Regions from separate parts of the Homo sapiens genome. Here regions 1, 2 and 4 are each linked to region 3. Evidence: fine-mapped expression QTL. A gene starts in region 3. Each other region holds a variant in brackets. All regions are shown on one strand. Distances are from middle to middle.

Region 1 (4,589 bases), 63 kb after region 3:
AATAAATCAATGTGGAGTGGCTCAGACTAAGGGCCCGCATGTGCACTAGAAGGATGGGGGTGCCAGGAATTCACGCCACATACAAATAGGGAAACCAGCCCCATCAGTGGATTATAGAAGCCCCTTGTATTCAACTATGAAGGGGGCCAGCCAGTAACCTGCTTTCAGGACCCCTCTTTTTGCTGAGAGCTTCCCTTTTTGCTTCATAAATTCTATTCCACTCACTCTTTGATGTCCATGTGCCTAATTTTTCCTGGTCGTGAGACAAGAACCCAGATCTCGCTGAGCTAAGGCGTAAAAATTCCTGCCTCAAGACCACTGTTCAGATGCCCTCATAGTGACCGCCACAGACAGGACACCAGTAAAAGATGAAGAAGGGACAAGCCACACCTCACCTTCATTGTCTGCACCCCCATTGCCTGTGTCTTGTTCACTCAGCACCTTGCAGATGAGAGTGTAAGCCTGCAGTATAAGAGGTACTCAACAAGCGTGTGTTGAAGGAATGAATGGCTGAATCCTAGACAGCAGGGTTGTAGGTAAAAAGGCCCTGAGATGTGAGGGAGCAGAGCACAATTGTGGAACTGAAACTCATTCCCTGTTCTCCCAACTACACTGCCCAGCCTAAGCTTACACATAACATTCATTAAGGGTCTGGTCAGGTTTCCAGGCAAAGTATTCTCCTCCCCACTGCTTTGCCAGGTAGCAAAGTGCTTATTTCCCCAGGCACATGAGCTGCGTGCACATGCTTGGAAGAGCTCACCTTGGCGTGAACAGAGGGACATCTCTATCACAGACTGAGAAATGCCAGTTATTCTCGAAGGCCACTGGCTTCTGAAAGATAGGAAAGTGCACTCCAGCAAGCCAGCAGAATGATTCATTTCCATGGGACTTGGAAAGCAGTAAAGCAGGCAGTGCCGGACTGAGAGCTGAGGTGCCATGTGGGGGAGGGCTGGGCTGGGAGCAGCTATTACCAGGGAAAAATGAGAAGGACTGTCTTGGGAGCAGTGGCAAAGGCAGATCTAGCCCCTTTTCCCGCAGAAGTCCTCCTCCATGAATGTTCTCCCCTTCAAGACTCCTGCTCTGTCTCGGCTTTGTGCCTCTGGGGCTGATGGTGGCATTACGGGTGCTACTTACAGTCACCGACAGTTTACTGTCCTAGAGGTGGTGGTTCCAGAAGGGCCTCTGATCCACGTCACATGGGCAGCTCCCAGGGAGGAACCAGACACCTCATCCCGGTGTCCTGCCAGGCAGGCCCATTCTGGGCTTCCCCCTGTCATGAACCAGGTTTGAGAATTCTATAATCTCACACAGCACCGGTAAAGCAATATGCTTTGGGGGTAGGGCACTCACGGAGCTAAAGGAGAGCAAGAAGGGTGAAGCAAGTGTGCATCCCCCATTCCATAATCATTCCTGGGTGGGGGTGAGCTGGGCCGACAGCACGGGCCTGTATTCTGCTGCAGGACCACACAGGCTACTTGGCTCCAGGCAGAGGAGTTAATACAGACATTGTCTAGATGTTGCAATGCTTCCTGCATGGAAGAGGGATGGGGAGGGTGAAGAGGAATCCTCCAGCCCCACAGAAAAGGGAACGTGGGCGCCCTCTTGCTGGGAAGCAGCCAGGCCCCAGCTGGCTCATGGTCCAAGCAATGCAAGGAGCTCCCAGGGTCCCTCTTGGATGCCCCTACCTTTGCTCTGCTGACCCAAGGAGAGCCACATGCTCCCCAGCATTGAGGCCAGCCGCAGCACAGCTCTTTCAACAGTGGGCC[CT/T]CCATGTGCAAGGTCCCCCCAGTTGTTCACGATTTTGAAGAGTCTGTTGTGTGCTGATTGCCACAGTCACTCCTGTGTAACTCCAACAATGAAATGGGGCTCCCTGCCTATCTACAGGCCACCACTACACCAGCAGGGACCTGTGACCTTGGGGTGAAGCCCGAAAAAGGGATGAGAGACATGGAACTTTCTCTCCCTGCTCCCAGAAAGAACGTTTTTGGTGCAGTGTTTTGTTCTGTTTTATTATTTTGTTTTATTTAGGTGAAACAAACATCTGGTACACAGATCTTCATCCATTTTAAATGCCTCTCTAACCCCTTACGGGTGTTGTAACCCCTCCTGTCTCCCATTCTGCATGTTAATTTGAGTATGAACTTAATGGACGCTAAATAAGTCAATCAAGATGCCATTTTTAGTGCAGTTGAGCAGATGTGTTTCTGGGGAAATGTGTTTGCATGGGCAACGTCACCCAAAAGGCACCTCAGTGAGCACCCTTCCACCCAGGGGAACCCAAAGGGAAGCCACAGCATAGCCAGCCTGGCACAATGCCATGGGGGAGAGCATGGGGCGGCCGCCCTTTCTGGGGGATTTTCTTGTGAAAATGCCACCCCGTCTTCCTTGGGACCTGCCCCTGCTTCGAGTTTCCCCTCCCTTCCTATGGAGCACCTGCCAGACACTGTGCAAAGGCCTCTACCCCCGACTTCAGGTGGTACACAGGCAGCCCAGTGCTGGGAAAACAGTCTGTGCTCAACTATTTTAACAGGTTAGAACCAGAGGTCAGACTTTCAAATTCCACCTAGCCAAGTCCCAGCACTTTCAGGAATTCTGGGTAACGCAAGACAGGCCAAGGAGTGCTTGGCTTAGCCTAGGTGCACTCATCCCCACAGTTGGAGAATTCTTGTCCGAAGTCTGAGATTCCCAGTTTGGGTCTTGGCAAGGACTCGAAGAGACTCCTTCGGGTAGCTGAAAGCTGGAGCTGTCAGTCAGGCTGGTTTTATCCCCTCTGCCCCACCAAGGACCATTCCTGAAGCTGCACTGGTGATGGGGATGTGGGTTGAGGCACAAAGCAGCCTAAATCTACACATGGGGCCTGCAGTGCAGTTGCCTTTCAAGAGAGCACAGGGTCCGCCTGCATTAGCTACAGTGTGCACGGCTAAAAGAACAAGGTTCCAGATCTGGCTCTAGCTCTGCTCCTAATTAGCTGAGTGACCTCACCCTTGCTGGGCTTTCCTTTTTTCATCTGCATAACAAGAGGGTAAAGCAGAAGACCTCAAAGTTCTTCCAGATTTAAAACTCCATGGGGACTTTCCTCCTCTCTAAACTGTGCAACTCAGAATAGTTACAAGGATTAAATTCGATAAGGTATATGCAAAACTGAGAGGCAGAGCCTGGATTTGCCTGGGCCATCAATTCCAGATACTCTCCTAAGGGATTTGCCAGCTCCTTAGATCAATGACTTAACAGAAGCCTGGCTGAGCCCAGATTAGGTCTCCCAAATCCTGGGCTTGGGGGCCTGTACTGTCGAGCCACTTTCTCAGAGCCAGGTTATGTTCAAAGACCAGGGTGAATGGCCAGAAGTGGGGACTCCTCCCCTATGCCCATCCCCTGCTCTGAAAGTCCTGTGCCCAGTGGCATCAAACAGCAACATGTCCTTAATGAAAACCCCAACTAAAGAGTGGTGGCTCATTCATGCCCCTCTGCATTCCAAACACCTTCCACTCAGTGAACGACCAGTCCAGGCTTGCACCTTCCAAGCCTGCTGTTGCCTTGGCCGTCTCTCTGCAACTAGTAACAGTTGGCCTGAAGCACCGAGAGGCAGAAGGAATAGAGCTGGGAGGGAAAACCCATGATGCCCCCCTATGATGTTTCTGCTACCCCCACCTGGAAGGGCTCCAAAGTGTGGGCCACCCAGCAGGTCTCTAGGAAAAAAATCTGATAGCTCCCCAGAGAAATTCCACCTAGCTGGAAAAAACAGTGAGTCTTTCCTGAGTGCTTACTGTGCACGTGATCTCACTTAATGTACACATGCCGCTATGGGGCAGACTTATGGCATCATCAACCCCATTTTACACAGTAGGAAACACAGCTCCAACCTATTCAATAATTTACTCAAGGTCACGCTGTTCGTAATTGCAGAGCCAAAATTTGAGCCCGAGGGCATCAAGTATCAAAGTCTACACTCTTAACCATTAAGCTGTGTCTTCTCCAAAGTGGGAACAGGTCACCTTGGTGTTGTTCACTTAGTCTAGAGACCACTTTTTTGTCTCGAGACACTCATTTGGCACAGAAAATCAAATAAATCACCAGAACCTGATGGATTAAATAAATCAACCCTAAGCAAAGACCCTACAACTTAGGAGAAACAAACTGCTAAGGTTTGCAGAGTTGCATCTCTAGGACTCCAGGAGCCTTTAAATACAAAAAGGAATTAAACTTTAGTGACAACGTTCTAGGCTTTGGCAGAAGTCAGCCCAGGGGAAGATGTAGCTGCCCCAGCTTAATACGCTGTCCCAACCAGGGACAAGGCCAGAACATTCAAACCAGGCAAGGGAGACTTCTAGTACAGCCCCACCCCTATCAGATTTCCTCCTACTGTCAACCCTGGTGGTTAAAGATTTTATTTTATTAAGAAAAGCAGTGTTCCAGTGTCTTTCAGTTCACTAAAAGGCCACACGGTTAATTAATGTCAGAGCTGCCAACCCTCGTACGTGGGGCTGGCCTGAGCCAGGCCTCCCAGGTGGACTCTTCTGGTTATTTGGAAAACACTTTGGCTTGAAGCTGAGGGTTCTGGAGTTGCCGTAGAACACTGGTGCAAACCACAG
Region 2 (4,589 bases), 24 kb before region 3:
ATCTCATTCCTTTTTATGGCTGCATAGTATTCCATGGTGTATATGTGCCACATTTTCTTTATCCAGTCTATCATTGATGAGCATTTGGGTTGATTCCATGTCTTTGCTATTGTGAATAGTGCTACAATGAACATAAACATGCATGTATGTTTGTAATAGAATGATTTCTATTCCTTTGAGTATATACTCAGTAATGGGATTGCTGGGTTAAGTAACATTTAAGTGTATTACGGCCTTTCCATCAAAGAAGTTTTATCTTTTAGGATTTACTTACTGCAGAAGCATTTGTAGCCAACGAGAGAGTCCTGATACTCTCAGTCTGTGTTCCCTGTCTGGAGCAGGCTGCTGCCTTCATAGGGTGTTTCCAGGAGCTTCCCGTACCCAGTTGGCGACCCTGAGCCCTCCACGTGCCTTATGATAGGTCATTGTTAGTTAGTAAGGGATGCCTTGGTGTTAAGCGCTGCCATCCTGCAATGAAATGCAAATGATTCAGGCCAGAGGATCTGTATGAAGTCCCCGATGCCTGAATGTGGGTGAATCCATCCAGCTTTTTTCCCAGTCCCCCAGTAGGCTCCATGTCCCTTCTGACTAATGCATCTGTTATCGTAGTGACTAAAAATATATTTTCCTCACCCATCCTAGGCTCATGGCTGAGGCCCCTCTAATAAAAGATAGATGAACAAGAGAAAAAAATATATAAATTTATTTAAATGTAAGTTTTATGGGTACGGGAGCCTTCATAAGGAAATGAAGACCTGAAGAAACAGTGAAACCTGTTTTTTATAGTAGGTTTCATGAAGAGTGGACAGTCATGGAGAAATATGAGAGGGAAAAGAGTATGATGTAATGGTAATAAGCCGGGGGAACTTAGGCAGGCCTGTTTGTTCAGATTTTTCTCTGTGTCCTATGTCCTCAGAGGTAAGGATGCTCTTTTCCTCCAGATGTGGGGAGGGCACTTCTCACATGAGCACCTGAAGACCTGCTGCAACGGAAAGTCAGAGAGGCCTTCCAGGTTTTAGGAACTGCCTCAGGAAAGAAGCCTGGACAAAGGTCACAGAGACCTTCCTGCTTATGTGTTTTTTTTCCAATTCCTTCAGCTTACACTGTTCAATATGCCGAGGTACCATATTTTGGGGTAGCATGTCTGCACCCCATCATTACTGTTTGTTTTGTTCCGTCAATCCTCATCTGCAGGTCAGTGGTGCTTCCCACTCTTACAAGTCCTGGAGAACCCATTGTTCATTCTCTATGTCCTCCCCACAGCCTGTAGTTTGATTCTTTGCCCTTGAAAGCGGCCTGTGTGCTTCTGCTGTGTTGAATCAAACATTTAGACTAAGCCAGAAACCTTGGAAGAGAAACCAAAGAGACAGCAAGGTCATAGAGTCGCGTGTTTAAGAGCACGGACACCAAACAGGTCTAGATTTAAATGTTATCTCACCACCTCCTAGCTATGACCCTTGGTCGACATACCCCACCTCTCTGAGACTTACCTACCCTCTCTGAGCCTCAGTTTACTCAACTGTAAAATAAGATCAGTTATTAAGCCTGTATCATACAATTGGTGTGAGGATTAAATGGGATGTAATTGGCATCATGTGAATACCCCTCAAACATTGGCCACTATTACCATTGTTGTTGTTAATAAGAGTGAGAGGAGCATGGTGGACAAATGGCAGCTCCTCAGATTCAATGTGAACTGAGGAGCAACAGGACTTAGGATCAAAACACCTGAGCTGAGAGCCATTCCCTCTCTCCGTGAACTTAGGCAAGTCCTGTCATCTCTTTAAGCTTTGTTTCTGCAGTTGTGAAACTGTGATGATAATAATAATATAATGCCTGTTTTGCAGGCTTATTGGGAGGACTAAATGCAATAATGTATGTAAAGCTGCTTTGCAAACTACAAGGAACTATATAATATCAGTGATTATTGCTCACACTCAGTTCTCAACA[C/T]TTTCTGGGACTGGTCCTGGTAAATTGAAAAAGAATGAATGGATTATCTAAGAATAGAAATGGGAAAAAATGAGGCTCAATTCTCGTGCCTTTAATCTGGCAGCTAATAAAGTCCAGGCCAAAGGGTGATCCCCACAGAGATTGAGGATTCTGACTAAAAGGGACCACTGGCACTGGGCTAATGGTGTTCCTAAGTGATCCTTTCCTTTGAGTCAGCAACGGCCTACTGTTTACCTACCATATAATCTCATGTTGCCTCAGGAGGCACCCTAACATTAGTTACCATTATTGAATTTCATAAAAGAGGACCTTCATAAAAGATAGACCAGTATCACAGGGCTAAAGAAAAAGAGAGTGCAAGAAAAATCACGGTATGTGTTACTTCCCTTGAGGCACCTTTATTCTTGGCTCTCGAGATTTTTTTTAATGTTACCTTTTTTCAATGTTGCATTTTGGGTAACACTTTTCTGATATTTTATTGTTTATGAGTTCTCCAACTTCTGCTGGCTTTGCTAACTTATCTTCTATTTTCCATTGCTACTCTAAATAAACATTTCTAATTTGAAAGTTAAAGGCTAAGGAACAGCTTACACCTGCAAGGAGGAGGAGGCTTTCAGGTTCAAAATGTTACTAGCTGTAGGCAGGTCCGGGATGGCTCCTACCAAAGTTGAAGTTCTCCCTAAGTCCTGAGCTACCTAACTCCAGGCTCTCCTCACCTCCATTCCAGGGCTGTCCTCACAGCAGCCACTGACACAAGCTGTCTGCCATTCAAATTAAGACACAAATGACTTAGGACAATTAAAATGCAGTCCTGGCCAGCTGCGGTGGCTCACGCCTGTAATCCCAGCACTTTGGGAGGCAGAGGCAGGTGGATTGCTTGACTCCAGGAGTTCAAGACCAGCCTGGGCAAAATGGCAAAACCCCGTCTCTACTAAAAATACAAAAAATTAGCTGGGCGTGGTGGTGCACACCTGTAGACCCAGCTACTCAGGAGGCTGAGGTGGGAGAATCACCTGAGCCCAGGAGGTTGAGGCTACAGTAAGCAGTGATCGTGCCACTGCACTCCAGTCTGGGCAACAGGAGTGAGAACCTGTCTCAAAAAAATAAATAAAATGTGGTCCTCCGGCATACTGATTTTTTAGTAACAATCAAAATTTAGCCAAAGGAAAGTTCTAGCAGTAGAATTCCAGAATTCTAGAATTGGGCTTTGCTCAAAAGGTCTTATGAGAAAGAGGCAGAAGATAATTTGTACAGTACTACTTTGCACAATAGTACAAAACCTTTCAACAACATTCTACGCCTTTGATTCCTGCCCATTAGAAAGAAATTGGGGCCAACTGAATCTGCATTCACAAGAAGTGAGCCAGAATGGGGAGGCCAAATAAAATTCGTGAAAGCATAAGGAGTACCACTCCTCCAGAATTTTCTACATGCTTGTGGAGGCCATAGGATTAACTCAAAGGGAACAGGGGCAATCTAGCGATCAGGAATCTTCTCTGCCCTTGAAACGGCTCTGAGGAGAAGCGTCTTGGAGTTGGGGCATGTATAAAATATGCATTACTGATATGAAGAGCTCCTTTTGAAAATTTCTCCCCTGCCCCCACCTAACTTCATTTTACCCCAAATTAGAAAACAAATTAAGAACCAGAAAGGAAAATTTTAACTTACTCATCTAAACCTACAAAATTAAAAACTTCACTTACACAATAGGACACTTCATCAGCAAAATAGCAGTGTGAATTTATTTTAGTCCCTGGTAAGTATTCAAATGCAAGATCCTATAGTGGTGTTATGAAATACACGAGCACTTAAACGTATAAGACAGGCAAATCAGGAAATGAATATTCTTATGTGACCAAAGAGTAAAAGTAATCCTGAATTAAAGGGAAGCCTAGCAAGAGCTCTGGCTGACCTAGTCACCCTTTGTGGGGCTCTAGACACATGAGAAACAACCAGGTGAACAGGTGGCATGGTAGCATGCCAGAAGACAGCAGACACATCCCTTAAATAAATTGGAAATCTGCCATCAGTGGCCTTGGGTCTCCATGCCCAACCCCTGACATATTGGGGAAAGATGCCTTTGTCCTGCTGGACCAGCTTTGCCCCTAGCCAAAGTAAATATTAGACAAAAAATTGACGAATATTATTTCAAGGGGACAGCAGCTTATATGCCTGCTTGGAGCACCCATCTTTGTTTGCGATCCCTCTTTAAACCCAGTATCTTTTCAAATCAAGGGCACAGAGGGAAGGTGCAGCCTCAGGACTGACGACCTTAGGAAGGGGGTGCAAAGCGTCTTTCTCCCCTTCATCCTGTAACACAGGGCCCAGTGCCCTTGGGCTGCCCAAGGCCAGGAAATGGGCCAGGTGGGACAAGGAGAGAAGGGGAATTAAGCCAGGTCTGCCCACCCTCAACCCCCAATACTGTCTCAGTTGTGCTTCATGGCAGGGGTAGGACGAAGGGGAGTTACATGTTTTGAGCACTTATTAGATGCCAAAGATTCTGCTGGTTGCATTATGTACATTATCCCTTTCTAATATGAGAAACACTTGGAGGTGGTTATCACTACTCCCACATTCTAGATGAGCCTCCAGGGAAGTTAAGAAATCGATCCAAGTTCACACGGAGATTCAAACGTAGG
Region 3 (4,589 bases):
AGGAGAGAAAGTGAGGAGAGGCAGACAGAAGCAACAGAAAGTTTAGCGCGGAAGTTGAGAAAGGGCCTGGCCAATTCCAATTTCTAAGGCCTTCAATAAACAAAAAGAAGAAGAGATGCCAATATTGGTTTACTAAGTCATGGTATGTTTTAGATCTTTAATTAATAAAGCTGCATGTGAACATATCTCTAATCTGTCAAGGCATATCTCATTTTGAAATAACATTAAGAGCTGGGCGCGGTGGCTCACGCCTGTAATCCCAGCACTTTGGGAGGCCGAGGTGGCGGATCATGAGGTCAGGAGTTCAAGACCAACCTGGCCAACATGGTGAAACCCCGTCTCTAATAAAGATACAAAAAAATTAGCCGGACGTGGTGGTACGTGCCTGTAATCCCAGCTACTCGGGAGGCTGAGGCAGGAGAATCGCTTGAACCCGGGGGTGCAGAGGTTGCAGTGAGCTGAGATCACGCCATTGCACTCCAGCCTGGGTGACGGGGCAAGACTCTGTCTCAAAAAAAAAAAATAATAATAATAACATTAAGAGTCTAATTTGAATATTCGTGAATATGAAGCTCAAGCTAAATAGTCTTACTATTCACTACTCCGTCCCCAGGTGCCTACCCAGAAGACCGCAACAGAATGAGAGTAAAAGCTTAGAAAAACGGGCTAAAGAGAACAAAAAGAGAAGTACTGAGAGGAAGATACAGAAACAAAGTAGAAAAAAAAGGAGAGAGAGGAAGCTGGAAGACCTGGAGCACCGCTCATCGTGGTCTCAGACGCACCAGGTAGCAGTGTATGGTCACCTTCCACTCACCTAGCCCTAAGGGGTATCTATGATGCTTTGTTGCTTAGTGGGAGAAATCTGCAACCATCCATTAGGAACCCGCTGCAACCCCCCCACCTCCCGGTTCAAGCGATTCTCCTGCCTCAGCCTCCTGAGTAGCTGGGATGACAGGCGCGTGCTACCACGTCAGGCTAATTTTTTTGGTATCTTTATAAGAGACGGGGTTTCACCATGTTAGCCAGGTTGGTCTTGAACTCCTGACCTCACGATCCGCCGGCCTCGGCCTCCCAAAGTGCTGGGATTACAGGCGTGAGCCACCGCGCCCAGTTCTTAATGTTATTTCAAAATGAGATATGCCATTAGGTGCTCATTGAGCACTGACTGTGCTGGGGACTGAGGAACGGGAGCCAAGATAAACATAAAGATTGTCTCTGTCTGCATAGAAAATGAAATGTATTTTTTGCACTCTCTGGACAGCAAACAAGGAGATAGGTCTCGAAAGAGAAAGGGTTCGCTTACTACAAGGACGTTCAATAACAGTTGTCAACCCTGACGGAATAACCTCAGTGGCAAGTAGCCTGCAAATCATATTCGTGCTTGAAATTCAGGTAAGTCCTTGGAAGCTGGTTTTTCATATACACGAATATGACCACATTCCAGCTGTCCAGGAACTTTCCAGGTACTGAAGAAGCCAGGAAGGAGATCACACTACCTTGGGGCTCCCGTAACTGCGTGCCAAGAGGAAAGTATCACCTAAGCCGAATCTTAAAGGGGTCAGCTTCTTGAAGAAAGATACCAACGATGCCTTAAAAAGAGGACTGTCGACCGACAGCGTAGAAGAGGTGAAAGTGTAGGTCACCGAGGGCCTGTCCGGCCACGCCTTTCCTTTTAGGTATAAACTTACTTCATTTTTCAACCATGGCTGCGATGGTAACTTTGAAAATAAACCTAATTTCCATACGAATATTTGGTGATTCACACTTTCGAGGCACCCCACAGCACGGTAGCCAGAAGTCTGTTGTTTTGCAATTTTAATCAAAGGCCCCTAACACATGCCTTGAAACACAACTTCATCTGTGCCAATACATTATAAATTCATAAAAAAGTTGAGATCTGTTAAGGGAAGGAGAGGTCAGCTTCGGTGTAGTGAGCTCAGCTGTGGTGAGCTCGGGGTCAAGTGAGGGTGTCTCTGAGGCCAGCGCCCCCAAGCTGCGCAGGAGCGGGCGTGGGCGCCCCCGGGTCAGGGCTCTTCGCAGTCGCGCGGGTCCGGAAGCGCGGCGCGGGCCCAACGAGCGCACGCGTACACGCGTGCGCAGGGGAAGACCGAGTGCCAGGGGCTGAACCGCAGGGAAGGGGGCGCGGCGCACGCAGTATGGCGCCCAACATCTACTTGGTTCGCCAGCGGATCAGTCGACTCGGCCAGGTGCGGCCTGAGGAGAAGCCTCCCGGTCTCCGCCCCGGCCCGCCCCTCGCCTCCCCAGCCGCCCCACTCCGTTTCCGCCCCAGAGTCTCAGCCAGCAGCTCAACCGCCGCCGCTCCGCCCCGCCCCGCCCCACGGCCGCCCGGGCCCGCCTCCGAGCCCGGCCAGCGCGCCAGCCCCGCCTGCCCTTCCTCGCCACCGGGCTGCTCTGGTCTCGTCGGTCCCCTCCTCCGCCCCGTCGTCCTGACTCTCTCTCCCTCCTTTCCTCAGAGGATGTCCGGCTTCCAGATCAACCTCAACCCGCTCAAGGAGCCACTCGGCTTCATCAAGGTCCTCGAGTGGGTGAGTGCAGCCCGCGCCGGCCAGGCCCGCCTGCCGCTCGGCGCGGCGCCCTAGGCGGGGAGACGGGGACCTGCGAGCCGGGACGCAGCCCTGCCGCGCGGGCTTTGAGGCCGCCGCCCCGGGACTGGGAGTGGACGGCAGGGAGGGCAGGGAGGCCGCGGCCTGGGCCGCGCGGGGCGGAGACGCCGCGGCGGGCGTCGAATCACGAGCTCCTCGGCCGCCTGGCTCCCAGGGGAGCCACCCTCCCACACCGGAGCTCCCCTCTGGGTGTCCCCGTGGAGTGGGAGTTCAAATTTCCCCTTGGCTCCACTGCCTCCCGCAGAGGAAGGGAAAACTTCCTGCTGCGGTCTAACCGAAACCCGGCGGCCGGCGTCGCGCTCTGCGGAGAGGCTCAGCGGTTACGTCCCTGCCGGTGCCCACTCGAGGTCTAGCTCCCTGGGAAGCCGATTTTGTCTTGTAGACGTGATTTGGCGAGCATTCCGTTCTTAATTTGTTTTTAAGATGGGCTCCGAGTTAAAAATAGTAAAAAAATAAACTGTGGGCCAGGGAAACTAAAGAAAGTCCTTTTAACAAAACGCATCGAGTCAGATCGGTTCACTTAATAACACGTTAGGAATGGACATCGAGTTTGTTTGGGGTATTTCCAAACAACATCCTGTTTAGAAAGTCAGCTTTTAGTCCTTTCCTGAGAACACTCACAATCATTAACATCAAAGAACGCTTATTAATTCGACCTTGGCAATGATCAGTTACTTGGAGGAGTTGGTGAATATACCAGGCACTGCGGGCTTCCTTCAAACTTCGCGGCCCACTACATATTTCTGCAGGCAAGTTGTGTTTATAGACAGCAGCATTTACATCCATAGCTTTTTCGCCCTTTTCCTTAGTGATAGAGTGGTGAAGAAGAATAAGAACTTTCAATTTCCTGTTCTAAATAACCTACCGAGGATGTTTTTAAAAGCAGCGTAGAAACTCAGTTTCTCTGATGGGTACCTAATGTGATTTCCTACTTGGACCATTGTAACCGCGCAAGGGGTTAGGCAATTTCACCATTCACTGAACATTTTGTGTGTTTTCTGAAAACTGAAGTAGTGCTGACTTCACACAAATGACTACTTGAAAGACGCATAAATAAATATACTTGATTTTTTTAAACCTAAGTCCAGATTTAAGTATAAAGAAAACCATGATTAAAGCATTTAAAAATTGCAAGAGGAAAATCTCATTAACGAGGCTAATCAAATATGAACGTTAAGAAAGTCTTATATCTAGATTTAGTCTCATTGAGGATTATAATTAAATGTATAACTAATAATTTAGATTTCCACTTAAATGAAGAGGCAGTTGTTTATATCTGTGCTTATATTTTTTGTCAAGTTTTTAAACAACTGTAGACTTAGCTTTTTCCTTAATATTTCAAGCACTAGTGATAAGTTCATTCGTGTTTTGATGTATTTTGAAAAATATCCCTTTTTAAGCATCTTACAGAAATACTTTCAGTTTGAACAGCTTGTTATTACACAGGAGAGCCTTTTATGAAAAGACTACACATTGTTAATGGTGTGGTAAATATTTGACTATTTTATACCAGATCTGTACTAAACACTAGCATACCACATGAATAAAACATGGTCTTTTTCTCATGATCTATTAAGGATGAAGGACATACAAAATACAAAAATGCCATGTAATAAACTGTGATAAAGGTGTATGCAAAGAATAGTAGAAGAAATGAGGGAGAGAGCATTTGCTTGGAGGAACTAGGGAGGACTTCATAGCTGAGAGAACACTTGAAGGATGGGTACTGGTTCACTTGGGGAGTGGCTTTCTAGGCAGAAGGAATCTTATGTTCAGTGGAAGGAAATGTTGAAGCAGCATAACCCTGTATGAGAACTTAAAAGTAATTGGGGGTTAGTTGGAATATATGCTAGGTTGGAGGGTACGGTTTGAGATTGTTCTGAAAAGATTTCAGAGGTCGGCTGCTTCTGGGGTTAATCTTTGGGAATCTGGGCCCTTTCCTTAGGAAAATGCATATGTGCAGGG
Region 4 (4,589 bases), 37 kb after region 3:
AAATGAAATCAGATCTTACTTCACACCATATACAAAAATCAAACCTAGAAGGATTAAGAGTTTACGTGTTAAAAGCACACTTTCACTTTTAGAGAAAAATAAGCTAATATTGTTCTCATCTTAGAACAGGGAGGGATTTCCTAAATAACACACAAAAATATGCTCACCGTAAGAAACAATATTCACAAATTCAGATATGTTAAAATTAGTCACCAAAACATGTCATCAAAAAATATTTTAAAGAAATAGAAGAAAAATTCCAACTGAAGTTATTATAGCACAAAGGATTAGCATGCAGAATAGATAAGGGTTCCTACAAACAAAAAGAGGGAAAAGCTAGCAAAACTGCAAAAGATTCAAACAGACATTTCACAGAAGAAAAAATACATACAGCTAAAAATCATGAAGCACTGTTGAACCTCATTATCAGGGAAATGGAAGTCAAAACCACAGAGATACCATTTTACACCTATTGATAAAAATTTTGTGTGACAATATTGAGTTTGAAGGGAATGTGAATCAATGTGATCACATTCCTGGTAGAAATGTAAATTAATATAACCACTTTGGAAAATAATTTGTCATTACCTTATAAGGTTGTTCATGCCTGAAGACCCAGTAACTCCTCATCTAGTTATATACCCAAGAGAAACATTAGCACCTAATATGAAACAGAAGATTGTTCTAAGCAAAAAAGTTTGTCTTACAGAAAGAAATAGAAACAACTCGGATATCTACTGGCAGGAAAAAATATAAATTTTAGTAGAGTCGCACAAGGGACTATAACACAGAGGTGAAAATTAAGGAACTACAGCTTTACCAACCACATGAATGTCTCAGAAACACTGTTGAGTGAAAAGAACAGGCTAGAGAAGACTATATACAGGGTGATACTACTTTTATCACCTGAGAAGACCCAATTACATATGATTTAGATGTTCAAGCATATTTGGTAAAACTCATCTTTAAAAAGCAAAGGAATGACAAACAACAGATTTAGAAGAGTAACCTATGTGAGAGAGCCAGAGGGCAGAGATAGAGTGGGTGCCCTTCCCTTTCCCTTAGGTCAAGGTAAAATGGTGGTGATATTCTAGTTCTTGGTTGGGCCTTGGTTTTACCAGGTGTTCATTACTAAATGTGATATAAAGTAAAATAAGGCCATTCACGGGCCAATGATGATAGTGTGCCATGAATCAAGAATTTTTATTAATTGCATTCTGTGCATTTGAATTCCATTTTGTGAAAAAACAACAAAACTGTACGAATTGCAAAGAAATGTTCCTGAATCCCACTATCATAATGCAGCAAGCAGTTCCTCTTAAAAGTCTCAGTTAATGACCTGGAGCACGCTTTTATGCTTTCCAGTGAAGTGTGAAGTGTTGCCTCTCTTGTCAACAAACTGTCAGTCAGCACTGCACCACTTCCAGCAGTTCTGAGGTCAGGGGAAAGATTTTGAAAACCTTGGCTGGGAACTTTAAGACAGAAACAAAAAAGGTGTCAGCTAAGGTTTCTTAGGGACAGTTGTTCATTTGTTTATTTTAAAAATCTGGTTCCAAAAAAGTCTCATTTAAATTCTAGGAAAAAAACAAATGAGAGTATTGCAAAGCAAATGTTTATTCTAAGTGCCAGGTCACATTTATATTGTAATGTGTTTTATACTTTTCTTGGGTGTAATTTCTTATTAAACTATTCTTTATAACTTTATAAAACCCACAGTTTCCACATAGCAATGTCGAAAAGCATTTTGATTTAGAAATAGCGAAAAAAAAGTAGTTTGGGAGCTAGAATGAATGTGCATTTAGAGTAGCATCCCAGGCCGGGTACGGTGGCTCACGCCTATAATCCCATCACTTCTGGAGGCCAAGGAGTGGGCATTACTTGAGCCTGGGCAACAAAGTAAGACACTGTCTTTACAAAAAAAAAATCAAAAAATTAAGCAGGTAGTCCGGGCGTGGTGGCTAACGCCTGTAATCCTAGCACTTTGGAGGCCGAGGTGGGCGGCTCACCTGAGGTCAGGAGTTCAAGACC[A/G]ACCTGGCCAACATGGTGAAACCCCATCTCTACTAAAAATATAAAAATTAGCCAGGTGTGGTGGTGGGCACCTGCAATCCCAGCTACTCAGGAGGCTGAGGCCGGAGAATTGCTTGAACCCAGGAGACGGAGGTTGCAGTGAGCCAACGTGGTGCCACTGCACTCCAGCCTGGGCGACAGAGTGAGACTCCGTCTCAAAAAAAAAAAAAAAAAAAAAAATTAGCCAGGTATAGTGGCATGTACCTATAGTCCCAGCTACTCGGGAGACTGAGGCAGGAGGATCACTTGAGTCCAGGAGGTTGATGCTGCAGCAAGCCATGATTGTGCCACTGCACTCCAGCCTGGGTGACAGACTGAGATCCTGTCTCAAAATAAATAAGTAAATCAGTGTTCCCTTAGATGTGAGACAAGCAAATGCACAATGTCCACTGTGTCACGAGCAGGGCTACAGAGATTGGAAAGTGAGGACTTAAGCACTGAAAGAAAACCTGTTTGCTAAGTCTCTGCCGTGCTTCCAAAGCTGAAGTATTCCTGAACTTCAGTTTCCCCATCTGTTGAACTCGGGAACTAAGATATGCCTTCCTTACCTCAGAGTTAGTGTATTGAGAAAGTAGATGTGAGCATGTTAGTGGCCAGGCACATTCTGCCCATTACACAGTAAACCAATCACTGAGATGATGAGTTTGGCAGTGGAGAAAAGATTTTATTCTTGAGGCAGCTAAGTGAGCAGCTAGAGAATGCCTCTCAGGTCTGCCTCCCCGTAGAAGAGGCTTTATGGATATTTATGGGGTAGAGTAGCAAGGCGGTCCGAGGCATGGGGAAAGGTGACTGGAGTAAGGGAAAACAAGGCAATGAGTGACCTGCACAAGTGTAGTCAAGCTTCATGGCTCTTAACAGGATGCACGTTAACAAAATGAGATCATTAGCGTGATCTGAGGGTGGAGTTTTTGGCCCTCCAACATCAAAAGGTCACCCACTGTGAAACGGGAGGTTTCCCTGAACCTCCTTGCAGGACATGCAACAAGGGTGTGGCTCGTCTGTTCAGCCACTGTGTGTGCTCAAACCCTTTACGGGAGAGGGAGCACGCAGGCAGGTGCAGGAATCAGGGTGAGCGCTTTTGGGCACCGGCCCACCAGTGGTGTCTAGGGGTAGGAGCCTGCAACTCCTGAAGCCCCAGTGGATGAGCTACAGTCCTCTTTTAGCTCTGCCATCCGCAGATGGCTTAAATGTTAAACAGCTCAGTGCCGTCTTGGTACCTGGATTCTTGTCCAGTGTCCAGGGAGAATCAGATCACACACAGACTTGAAGGATGGTGAATGTGGGGGTTTTATTGAGTGGTGGAGGTGGCTGTCAGCAGGGAGCCGGAAAGCGGATGGAGTGGGAAAATGACCTTTCCCTGGAGTTTGGCTGTCCAATGGCCTATCTCTCCTCCCTGACTGCCCCAGCCAAACTCCTCTTGATGTTCAGATGCTCCTTCTTTACTCTCCTTCTCTGCCACGCCGTTCTGCAGCTCTTCTGCTCTTCTGTTTGTCTGCTCATCTGCTTGTAGAGCCTGGGGCTTAGGGTTTATATGACTACAGGATAGGGGGCGTTCCAGACCAAAAGGCAACATTTGGGCATGAAAACAGGAATGCTTGTTCTCATTCCAGGCTGCAGGTTTCCAGGCTTTAGGGTGGGGCCTTTGCCAGGGAACCACCCTCTTCTACCCAGTATTTCCCTGTCTCCTGTCCATATCAACTGGACATTCACACAGGTCCAGTTGAAGGGCTGGTGGTCTCAGCTGGTTTGAAGTGGACAAGGACTGACCCCCACTTCCTGAAAAACAACTGTTACCATGGTGAGCAATGCCTTAGAGTTGTTAACTATAAGGAAGCTACTGGCAGATATATATTATTTAGCTATATGGATTTTAAAATCAGCTAGAAGCAAGCGGCTAAAAGCAAGCAAGGCAAGATAAGCTTGGTGGGCCTTATAAGTTTAGTCCTCAGTTTCCATCAACAGCCCATGGTCAAGCAAGAGGCAGCAGGTGGGGTAACAGGAAACCAGTGGGATGCAGACAGTGCGCCCATGCCCATTTTATAGTGCTTGGAGCATGAGTTTACTATTTATAATGACCACGGAGTTTAGAGCTATTTTATTATTGCATTCCTGACAGAAATTATCAAATCATATCTGATGTGCTTGATGTCAAGTCCCTAACCCAGAATGTAAGTCCAAATTTATAACTTCATTATTTGTTTGTTTGTTTGTTTGTTTGTTTTGAGAGGAAGTTTCAGTCTTGTTGCCTAGGCTGGAGTGCAATGGCAAGATCTTAGCTCACTGCAACCTCTGCCTCCTGGATTCAAGCAATTCTCCTGCCTCCGCCTCCTAAGTAGCTGGGATTACAGGCGCAAGCCACCACGCCTGGCTAATTTTTGTATTTTCAGTAGAGACAGGGTTTCACCATGTTAGCCAGGCTGGTCTCAAACTCCTAACATCAGGTGATCCACCCACCTCAGCTTCCCAAAGTGCTGGGATTACAGGCGTGAGCCAATGCACCCGGCTATAACCTCATTATTATG

Direction of the effects. Alleles are on the strand shown, and positions count from the first base shown. SD is a standard deviation of normalised expression in the study named. Not every link is listed here.
With allele T in place of C in region 2, the expression in left ventricle of the gene that starts at base 2,374 in region 3 is lower (small effect, 0.37 SD a copy in GTEx).

The links. PIP is the estimated chance that this variant, and not a neighbour inherited with it, causes the effect. A credible set is the group of variants that fine-mapping cannot tell apart.
Region 1: its variant is the best candidate, but not a certain one, in a credible set for the expression of SYPL1 in whole blood (TOPMed, PIP 0.56).
Region 2: its variant is the best candidate, but not a certain one, in a credible set for the expression of SYPL1 in left ventricle (GTEx, PIP 0.85).
Region 4: its variant is the best candidate, but not a certain one, in a credible set for the expression of SYPL1 in whole blood (INTERVAL, PIP 0.65).

What each region holds. Positions count from the first base shown.
Region 1 is chr7:106,047,218-106,051,806 of GRCh38, reverse strand. No RefSeq gene overlaps it. Among named protein-coding and RNA genes, the nearest start is that of SYPL1, 63 kb to the left of the region's middle. The variant CT/T (reference allele first, on the strand shown) is at 1,767.
Region 2 is chr7:106,133,786-106,138,374 of GRCh38, reverse strand. No RefSeq gene overlaps it. Among named protein-coding and RNA genes, the nearest start is that of SYPL1, 24 kb to the right of the region's middle. The variant C/T (reference allele first, on the strand shown) is at 1,951.
Region 3 is chr7:106,110,097-106,114,685 of GRCh38, reverse strand. It overlaps SYPL1 (synaptophysin like 1), which reads left to right and starts at 2,374. Exons shown (of 5, transcript NM_182715.4): 1 at 2,374-2,546. The coding sequence starts at 2,478. RefSeq lists silencers at 1,967-2,026, 2,107-2,596, 2,607-2,856 and an enhancer at 2,312-3,144.
Region 4 is chr7:106,072,929-106,077,517 of GRCh38, reverse strand. No RefSeq gene overlaps it. Among named protein-coding and RNA genes, the nearest start is that of SYPL1, 37 kb to the left of the region's middle. The variant A/G (reference allele first, on the strand shown) is at 2,029.